Homo sapiens: one gene and its partner. The protein of the gene in region 2 interacts with the protein of the main gene of each other region in a biochemical or structural test. Each region holds a gene or a part of one and is shown on either strand. Other genes may lie near its edges.

Region 1 (5,360 bases), on a different chromosome or scaffold from region 2:
CATTATTCACAAGAACCATGCTCATTCTTCTTTATTATACCACTTTCCCCAACATTGAGAGGCAATGTATCACTTAAACATGCAAATATATGAAGCATTTATTTATTGTTTTCATTTCCCTTCTTCAGCATACACACTTTTTGTGCCTTCAGCAATACTTTCCTTATTGTCAAAGTTTCTATTCCTAACAAAATTTACATTTTTATGGTAGTTTACAAATATAAAACTACTTTCACATATATTATTCATTTCACCTTAAAAGTGTCTGGTTCAGTAGACTAGACAAGACATTAAAGTCATTCTTCATTGTAATATTCTCATTTTGGTGATAAAGAAATGAAAGATCAAGCAGAAAGGACTGCTCCCAAATTTCAGAAAGTGACAGAGCTTAAGACTGGAACATAAGTCCTCCTGTAGCAAGGCCAGTGCTCTGTGCATTAAACAGCCTCCTGCATAGATCTCCAAAGGCATTGGTTCTGAGGTAGGTTGCTGCCAGCCCCTTCACCTCATTCATATATTTCCTGAGCATTTAAGTGTTGGTTTAGATAAAGGGGCATAATGAGTCAACACCAGATAGCAATCTGCTCCAACTGACCAGGTGGTTAGGGCAAATTATTACAAACTTCATCATTTAGGACTGACAGTCATCACATAAGGACATAAATAAGACAGAAAAAGAGTCATAAGTTATTATCATAAGTTATTTATGATAATAGACAAAAGTGTACGAAAACAAGCCTCCAGTGACAAAGGGAAGCATGATGAAGTCAGTAAACCTTCCTCCTCAACCACTGTCTACACCCCTATGTGCCAGGCCAGCTGCCCTGGCCATTGAAGGTCCATTACGGACCATTAAAGTGCCTGGAGACTATCCCCTGGCCTCAACTGGCACAGCCATGGTCCTCAGTCAAATCCACTAGCACTAACATGTGATTAAGACAGCCTGGGTAAATCTCTCATTAGGAGAGGAGGTAGCTAGGCAAACAGCTGCTACTTCTCTACATTTTATTCATTATTCAGTACCCCAAGATATTTCTTATAGCAACTCTTCCTAATATCCCATGTTGCTCAGATATACATAATAAATTTAGGCAGCAGAGGTTAGAGGATCAAAATTAAAAATAAAATCACCATCATCTCTTGAGGTTTTCAAAAATAGTAGAGTTAGTAGGTTTTGTCTGTGTCAATATCATTTACCACAGCTTACTTTACCCTTTGCTTTCTATTAAAAATAAATAAATGCATACATGCAAACACCTATACATGCATACATGTATAAATTCTGTCATGATATCTGAAAACCAAGCAGTTATCTAAGATAGTCTCTTGCATTCACAGACATATTATCACCTTATATGCAGACTACTATTCTAATCAAATCCAATCACTAAGTCAGGTTTATATTTGGAAATATTGTTTCAGAAATTTGGAATACAAGCCAAAAATTTTTTAATCTTAAATAATAATTATATAGATTACTGTTAAGGAAAATGATATATATATAGTATACATTAATATATGATACATATATAGTAAGAACACTAACCTATACATTAAAATCTTTAATTTGAGCTCAAGTTCTTCCTACCTGTATGACTTTGGGCAACTTACGTCAAATGAAGGGGTCATTAATTTCTAAGATCTTTTTTAACACCAAATTCTACAAATTTTTAATGTTAGACTAATTCAATACTGAGACAAGGAAAATAAAATAATGGAAATAATATAAATTCATGCTTTAAAGTAGTCCTTAAAGGGAAAGCCAATAAATAAACACTCTCAGATTAAAAACAGGTGATCTGTAAATGTATACAAGCCTGCCAGACACAAATTGCCTCTTTCCTCTCTTTCTCTTCCACGCTTTCCCACTTAGAGATCACCTAGTGGTCCACAACAGAGAACAATCTGATCCTACTGTCTCTTCCCCATCATCTCCCATCTTCTTTCTTCCCCATTAGAAAGATTACAAACCCTGGGCCAAGCCAATCAGCACACTAACTTCCCCTCAGTCAGAGCCTTAGATTCAATGGTTGGAAACAAGATCAGTGGATTCAAGCACTGTAAACCTTAGAGCCTTATCAGGTGCAACCAGCAGATAATTCACATTTCCTTAAGGGACTTGAACCTGGGATCTTGTTCGGTGGGAGCTGCCACAGCCATCGTGCCTCTATATGGAGCCTAAGAAGCTCCTGGAATACCCTAGAACTAAACTAAGCAGGCAGAGAAACATCATGTCTCAGTGGAATTACGTCAACTTCTAAATCAAGCTCCACCTGAACTGTAGTTAGGAGAGACAAATAAATTCACCTTTTGTTGCAACCAGTCTGGGTTACATTTTCTGCCAAGATGCAACCAAAGAAATGTCTAATCTTTAAACATTTGTGTACATTCATTAACGAATCTTGACTCTACCAGTGACTCATATAGCCACTTGGGACAAGTTATTACTTAACCCCTCGAGGCCTTAGTTTGTAAAATGGAGATGATCCTCATCTTAAAGGATATTGTGAGGATTTAAAATTATGTAAAACACTGATCACAGGCCCTAGCAGGTCATGGGCTCTCAGTAAATTACAGCTCATATTGTTATTTTTGCAATTGCTTTAGGAAAAGCTCTCTTCTCCAACATATAAGAAAATAAATGAACCTAATTATTGCTCATAAGAATAAAAGCAGTACTAGTAAAAAAGACAAGTTCCAGAATTTGGAGTCAAACTAGAAAAAGTAACTGTGAAGTTCTTGAAGATATACGAAAGTGCCCTCTCAGAGTCTCTCCACCACTACTTCTCCTCTAACAGTGATCAGTCTCCTATTAAATCTTTCTTTAAACATTAGTGTCTAAATTAAGTACATATGGAAATACACTGATTTACAGTTCATTAATTCAATAAATTATATATTTTATATTTAAGACAATATAGGTTATGCAGACTTTTATTTACAGTATCAAAAATATAGAGAACGTTGCTATTATCCCAAACTCCAGCTTCTGATCTCATGATACAGCCAACTGTAATGGGTGAACATTAATTTTTACTTCTTGTTTTTTATTAGTCTCTGCCATAACCACGTCATTATGCCAATATTTTCTGAATCACTAGTGAATGGCAAAAACAAATATAGCAGTTGTGATTTAATCAGAGACAACACTGTTGAAACAGCTAGCACAAGTAGACACATTTAGAATAGTAAATGGATAACAAAAAACACTTACAGGCTCATTAATAAGAAGGCAATTAGGTCTTCTGGGAAAATTCATTTTCTAAAAGAATGCTAAAGCAAGCTATAAAATGCAAGTAAAATTGTGTTTTGACATGAATAGTGTACACTGTCTATTACATCATAATTTTTCTCTTGAGAAAACTGACAAGAATCTCTGTTCTTAAATATGAGCACAAAAGATAATAAAAAGAACACCAGTTATATTTAATGCATTCTACCTACCAACTCCCATTCATTAAATTTGACTGTCCTATAAATGAGCTCCTTACTACAAAGATCTTAAATTACACTTAGATGAAAAAGAGAATTATAAAGCAAGAGACTGCTACTAGTAATGTCAGAGGGAATAGTATTTCCTGTATCAACATAACATTATGCTAAAAATGATTTGCATATAGCATGTTTGGTTCCTTGAAGAGTATGTTTATCTTTAAATATTCTTATACAAAATATTCATAACCAAAACTAGTCTTACTTTTAGTCTCTTATGAAAATATTTTTTTTCAAAGTCATCTGAGCATTCTTTTAAAAAGCTTGTATAGTACTGTTGTTTTGATGTGTCTGGAATATTAAATAATAATCAAGTAAATATTGATCAGAAATATACTCCAGGGGCCGGGCATGGTGGCTCACACCTGTAATCCCAGCATTTTAGAAGGCTAAAACAGGAATATCACTTCAGCTCAGGAGTTCGTGACCAGCCTGGGCAACATGGTAAAACCCCATCTTGACTAAAAATACAAAAATTAGCTGGGCATGGTGGCGCACCTGTAATCCCAGCTACTTGGAAGCCTGAAGCAGGAGAATCTCTTGAACCCAGGAGGCAGAAGTTTCAGTGAGCCGAGATCGTGCCACTGCACTCCAGCTTGGGTGACAGGGCAAGACTCCATCTCCAAAAAAAAAAAAAGAAAGAAAGAAAGAAAGAAATAAAGAAAAAGAAAAAGAAAGGAAAAAGAAATATAAATCCAAGGAAATGTATTTCAGGTTATCATTAATCCTTTTGCAATATTCTTGAAATTCTATGGTAAAGTTCATGTGACAATCTTTTTAAACTGAGCTTTCTTTGTCCTAGAGCAGTGTTTCCCAGAATTAAATGTTCCATCAAATCACCTGGGGATTTCATCAAAATGCAGATTCTGATTCAGTAGATCTGGGGTGACTCTGATGATCACAGATCATCACAAATTTCCAGATGATGCTAATTATATTGGTCCATGAACCACAAAATCCCAGGACACCTTGCAGTGAGGAATCCAATGACCATGAAGCAATCAGTCATCAATCCCTGGGTGGGTAGTGAGGACCCTAGAAAGCCTTCCTCTCTACTCTTGAATTTACTGAATGACCTAAGAAAAATCACATCAAGGAACTGTTGCCAGTCTGTCACTTAAGCAGCTGCTAGGTCACCTCCACTATCCAACACGGATTAAGGGAATTTCTGTGGCTGGTCAGCTGCTGCCTTGAACAGCGCTTGGAGAATCGGCCTATGAGCAGCTGGTTAAGGAACAGGCTGCACTGGGAAGGGTTTATATTAATAGATACCAATCTGGAGAAAGATTTATTATTTTATCCTTAAAAGTATAACAGTATAGTATAGTATACAGTATAGATTATATACAGCTTATTTTCCACTTGTTTCTACATCTATGAAATAAAGTAGTGATCTATTTTCACTACTCTTTCCAAAAATGTTAAGTATGGAGTTTTGATACCATCTCTAGATGCCCTTACCTTCTTTCTAACCTAAATGTTTCTACAACTAAGTCCTAGCATTGTTAAGATGTGTGTGTGTGTGTGTGTGTGTGTGTGTGTATTCACACAGAGGACTACATACTTACATCTTTCACATTTCCCAACAAAATAAATACAAACAATAACTCCACTACGCACTATTTTATTTTGCCTTGTTTCTGAATTCCCCTTATTAAAACAATTCCTAGAATGACACCTGTTGGAGGATTCAGCCAGCACTGCCCTGTTCATCATTTTCATTATCAGAGCTCAATAATCATATCAAGTGGAAACACGGATTATTCCATTTAGGACAACTTAATTTGATCCTAAAACAACTGTAAGTGACAAAATAAGCCACTTGTAATTTTTATGGATTATCAACACACGAAGGAGAATGCCAAAAA
Region 2 (5,361 bases):
CTTTGTTTCTATAATACTTAGGGCCATGCCAAGAAGAACTTCTTCAATTATTTCAATGTTTTTTATGAACCACCCTGGGCACATCAGGTATTCCAATTAAAGATCTCCTGCCTGACTTTAATACTTACCTTTCGCTCCTCTAACATTCTGTTTAAGGACACCAATATCTGGGCAAATGATGGCCTCTCATAAGGCTTCTCCCGCCAGCATTGTCTCATTAGATCATACCTTCGAAAGCAAAGAATTAAAGGGTTAATTCTATAACTGTGCTTCAGTCCTAGGCACGGCAGGAAAAGAGAGGAGAGAATGAAGCCACCCAATGCATGGTTATGAAGCTTAACCAAAGTACAGCCCCTAGGAAGTTTCTATGAGGACTCCCACCTCCCTAAGCCAGTCTCATTTCAACTCCTCATAGATTTAGTTCCTACCCTCGGTACTGTTTCTGCAGGACCTTGGTCTCAGCTATTGCAATCATCTAGAAAGAACTGGGTATGTGTCTAGAGCAGCATTTGCCTTGGAATGCTGCATATTTCAAAATGTTAGTGTCTCTTAAAGGGCCCATGCTCAAACTTGTAAAATGCCACCCACATAAAGTCCCTTTAAGAGGCAGGACTTTTAGAAGCACTGTCATTAAAAACAAAAAAATGCCTGTTTAACCAGGTGCTATGGACTGAATGTTCATGCCACCCAAAAATCATGTGTTGAAACCATGTGATGGTGTTTGAAGGTAGGTCCTTTGGGAGGTGATCAGGTCATGAGGGTAGAACCCTCATGAATGGGATTCGTGCTCTTACACAAAAGGCCTCAAAGAGCTCTTTTGCCCCTAGTGCCACGTGAGGACACAGCAGAAAGATGGCCATCTATGAGCTAGGAAATGGCTCATGGCCACCAAATCTGCTAGCGCTTTGATCTTGGATTTCCCAGCCTTCAGAACTGTGAGAAATACATCTCTGTTGTTTATAAGCCACCATGTTTATGGTATGTTGTTACAGCAGCCGGAAATGACTAAGACAACAGGTTTAACACAAAGTTTCCAAAGTAATTGACCGCAGAACTCCTTTCCCCTTGCATCATGTATTTATATCTTGCACAACACGTGAAAACATAGTTTGGGAAACACTGACCTAAGACAGTGCTTACTCAGTTGTGCTCAGAACTACTCTGTTATTAAAATGCAGAATTCTGGAACCTGCCCTAAACTTACAGAATCAATGACTGACAGTGGGGACCAAGAGCCCACATGCTGAACAAATGACTCTGGGGAACCTTATGTGCATGGAAGGCTATCAACCATTGGCTTAGGGTGTCACAGATCCCAGAACAGCTTACACTTTAACATAAGTTTCTTAAAGACTAAAAAATCTTCTCACCCCTTATGAAGTGAATCTCAAAAGGTGGAATTTTAGGGACTGTCTAGTGATGGTCAACTATGTCCAGGTTTTTCCAGGATGGTATGTATGCTTCTTGCTCCAGTGAGATTAACACCCTCCTTCACTCTTAGAAGTAGCTCCATTTAGACAATAAATTATCTGCTCAACCTAGAGCCTTGCAGTCTTCAAACATGCCAGTTAGCTTCTACCACGGATAGTTCTGGGAATGCTGGTATCACTACAGTTCATTATTCTTACCCTTGGAATAAATCTTACTTTTGAAAGTAATCTTAGCAGAAGCAAGGTTCTAGGCAAGAAAATGTATCTTTATTTTTTTATTATTATACTTTCAGTTCTGGGATACATGTGGAGAACATGCAGGTTTGTTACATATGTATACAAGTGCCATGGTGGTTTGCTGCACCCATCAACCTGTCATCTACATTAGGTATTTCTCCTAATGCTATCCCTCCCCTAGCCCCCACCCCCCGATAGGCGTGTGATATTCCCCTCCCTGTGTCCATGTGTTCTCATCCTTAAACTCCAACTTATGAGTGAGAACATGCAATGTTTGGTCTTCTGTTCTTGTGCTAGTTTCCTGAGAATGTTGGTTTCCAGCTTCATCCATGTCCGTCCAAAGGACAAGAACTCATCCTTTCTTATGGCTGCATAGTATTCCATGGTGTATATGTGCCACGTTTTCTTTATCCAGTTTATCATTGATGGGCATTTGGGTTGGTTCCAAGTCTTTGCTATTGTGAACAGTGCTGCAATAAACATACGTGTGCATGTGTCTTTATAGTAGAATGATTTATAATCCTGTGGGTATATTCCCAGTAATGGGATGGCTGGGTCAAATGGTATTTCTAATTCTAGATCCCTGAGGAATCGCCACACTGACTTCCACAATGGTTGAGCTAATTTACACTCCCACCAACAGTGTAAAAGCATTCCTATTTCTCCACATCCTCTCCAGCATCTGTCATTTCCTGACTTTTTAATGATTGCTATTCTAACTGGTGTGAAATGGCATCTCATTGTGGTTTTGATATGCATTTCTCTAATGACCAGTGATGATGAGCTTTTTTCATGTTTGTTGTCTGCATAAATATCTTCTTTTGAGAAGTGTCTGTCCATATCCTTTGCCCACTTTTTGATGGGGTTGTTTTTTTCTTGTAAATTTGTTGAAGTGCTTTGTAGATTCTGGATATTAGCCCTTTGTCAGAAGGATAGATTGCAAAAATTTTCTCCCATTCTGTAGGTTGCCTGTTCACTCTGATGGTGGTTTCTTTTGCTGTGCAGAAGGTCTTTAGTTTAATTAGATCCCATTTGTCAATTTTGGCTTTTGTTGCCATCGCTTTTGGTGTTTTAGTCATGAAGTCTTTGCCCATGCCTATGTCCTGAATGGTATTGCCCAGGTTTTCTTCTAGGGTTTTTATGGTTTTAGATTTTACGTTTGTCTTTAATCCATCTCGAGTTAATTTTTTATAAGGTGTAAGGAAGGGGTCCAATTTCAGTTTTCTGCATATGGCTAGCCAGTTTTCCCAACGCCATTTATTAAATAGGGAATCCTTTCCCCATTGCTTGTTTTTGTCAGGTTTGTCAAAGATGAGATGGTTGTAGATGTGTGGTGTTATTCCTGAGGCCTCTGTCTTGTTCCTTTGGTCTATATATCTGTTTTAGTACCAGTACCATCCTGTTTTGGTTATTGTAGCCTTGTAGTATAGTTTGAAGTCAGGTAGCTTGATGCCTCCAGTTTTGTTCTTTTTGCTTAGGATTGTCTTGGCTATGCAGGCTCTTTTTTGGTTCCATATGAAATTTAAAGCAGTTTTATCTAATTCTGTGAAGAAAGTCAATGGTAGCTTGATGGGGATAACACTGGGCAGTGTGGCCATTTTCACAATATTGATTCTTCCTGTCCATGAGCATGGAATGTTTTTCCATTTGTTTGTGTCCTCTCTTATTTCCTTGAGCAGTGGTTTGTAGTTCTCCTTGAAGAGGTCCTTCACATCCCTTGTAAGTTGGATTCCTAGATATTTTATTCTCTTTGTAGCAGTTGTGAATGAGAGTTCACTCATGGTTTGGCTCTCTGTTTGTCTGCTATTGGTGTATAGGAATGCTTGTGATTTTTGCACACTGATTTTGTATCCTGAGACTTTGCTGAAGTTGCTTATCAGCTTAAAGAGATTTTGGGCTGAGACAATGGGGTTTTCTAGAAATACAATCATGTCATCTGCAGACAGAGACAGTTTGACTTCCTCTCTTCCTATTTGAATGCCCTTTCTTTCTTTCTCTTGCCTGACTGCCCTGGCCAGAACTTTCAATCCTACGTTGAACAGGAGGGGCGAGAGAGGGCATCCTTGTCTTATGCCGGTTTTCAAAGGGAATGCTTCCAGCTTTTGTCCATTCAGTGTGATACTGGCTGTGGGTTTGTCATAAACAGCTCTTAATATTTTGAGATACGTTCCATCAATACCTAGTTTACTGAGCGTGTTTAGCCTGAGGGGGTGTTGAATTTCCTTGAAGGCTTTTCTCCATCTATTGAGATACATGTGGTTTTTTTCATTGGTTCTGTTTAGATGATGGATTATGTTTATTGATTTGCATATGTTGAACCAGCCTTGCATCCCAAGGATGAAGCAGACTTGATCATGGTGGATAAGCTTTTTGATGTGCTGCTGGATTCTGTTTCCCAGTATTTTATTGAGAATTTTCGCATCAATGTTCATCAGGGATATTGGCCTGAAGTTTTCTTTTTTGTTGTGTCTCTGCCAGGTTTGGGTAACAGGATGATGCTGACCTCATAAAATGAGTTAGGAAAGATCCCTCTTTTTCTATTGTTTGGAATAGTTGCAGAAGGAATGGTACCAGCTCCTCTTTGTACCTGTGGTAGAATTCAGCTGTGGATCCGTCTGGTCCTGGACTTTTTTTGGTAGGTAAGCTATTAATTCTGCCTCAATTTCAGAACTTGTTACTGGTCTTCGACTGGGATTCGACTTCTTCCTGGTTTAAACATAGGAGGATGTATGTGTCCATGAATTTATCCATTTCTTCTAGATGTTCTAGTTTATTTGCGTAGAGGTGTTTATAGTATTCTCTGATGGTAGTTTGTATTTCTGTGGGATCAGTGGTGATATCCCCTTTATCATTTTTGTTGCATCTATTTGATTGTTCTCTCTCTTCTTCATTAGTCTGGCTAGCAGTCTATTTTGTTATCTTTTCAAAAAACTAGCTCCTGGATTCACTGATTTTTTTTGAAGGGTTTTTCATGTCCCTGTCTCCTTCAATGCTGCTCTGATCTTAGTTATTTCTTGCCTTCTGCTAGTTTTTGCATTTGTTTGCTGTTGCTTCTCTAGTTCTTTTAATTGTGATGTTAGGGTGTCAATTTTAGATCTTTCCTGCTTTCTCCTGTGGGCATTTAGAGCTATAAATTTCCCTCTACACACTGCTTTAAATGTGTCCCAGAGATTCTGGTATGTTGTGTCTTTGTTCTCACTGGTTTCAGAGAACATCTTTATTTCTGCCTTCATTTCGTTATTTACCCAGTAGTCATTCAGGAGCAGGTTGTTCAGTTTCCATGTAGTTGTGTGGTTTTCAGTGAGTTTCTTAATCCTGAGTTCTACTTTGATTGCACTGTGGTCTAAGAAACTGTTATGATTTCCGTTTTTTCGCATTTGCTTAGGAATGTTTTACTTCCAGTTATGTGGTCAGCTTTAAGTGTGATGAGGTGCTGAGAAGAATGTATATTCTGTTGATTTGGGGTGGAGAGTTCTGTAGATGTCTATTAGGTCTACTTGGTCCAGAGCTGAATTCAAGTCCTGAATATCCTTGTTAATCTTCTGTCTCGTTGATCCGTCTAATATTGATAGTGGGGTGTTAAGACTCCTCACAATAATAGTGGGAGACTTTAAGTCTCTTTGCAGTTCTCTAAGAACTTGCTTTAAGAATCTGGGTGCTCCTGCATTGGGTGCATATATATTTAAGATAGTTA

What was found. Proteins that work in one complex are often made in the same cells at the same time.
Region 1: of the proteins of TEK (region 2) and PTPRK, one has a biochemical effect on the other in vitro, tested with the Homo sapiens proteins (one large-scale study listed by IntAct).

What each region holds. Positions count from the first base shown.
Region 1 is NC_000006.12:128,509,368-128,514,727, forward strand, and holds part of PTPRK (receptor-type tyrosine-protein phosphatase kappa isoform b precursor), read right to left. Parts: intron 1-5,360. UniProt on the Homo sapiens protein: Regulation of processes involving cell contact and adhesion such as growth control, tumor invasion, and metastasis. Negative regulator of EGFR signaling pathway. Forms complexes with beta-catenin and gamma-catenin/plakoglobin.
Region 2 is NC_000009.12:27,223,073-27,228,433, reverse strand, and holds part of TEK (angiopoietin-1 receptor isoform 1 precursor), read right to left. Parts: intron 229-5,361; coding exon 129-228; intron 1-128. UniProt on the Homo sapiens protein: Tyrosine-protein kinase that acts as a cell-surface receptor for ANGPT1, ANGPT2 and ANGPT4 and regulates angiogenesis, endothelial cell survival, proliferation, migration, adhesion and cell spreading, reorganization of the actin cytoskeleton, but also maintenance of vascular quiescence.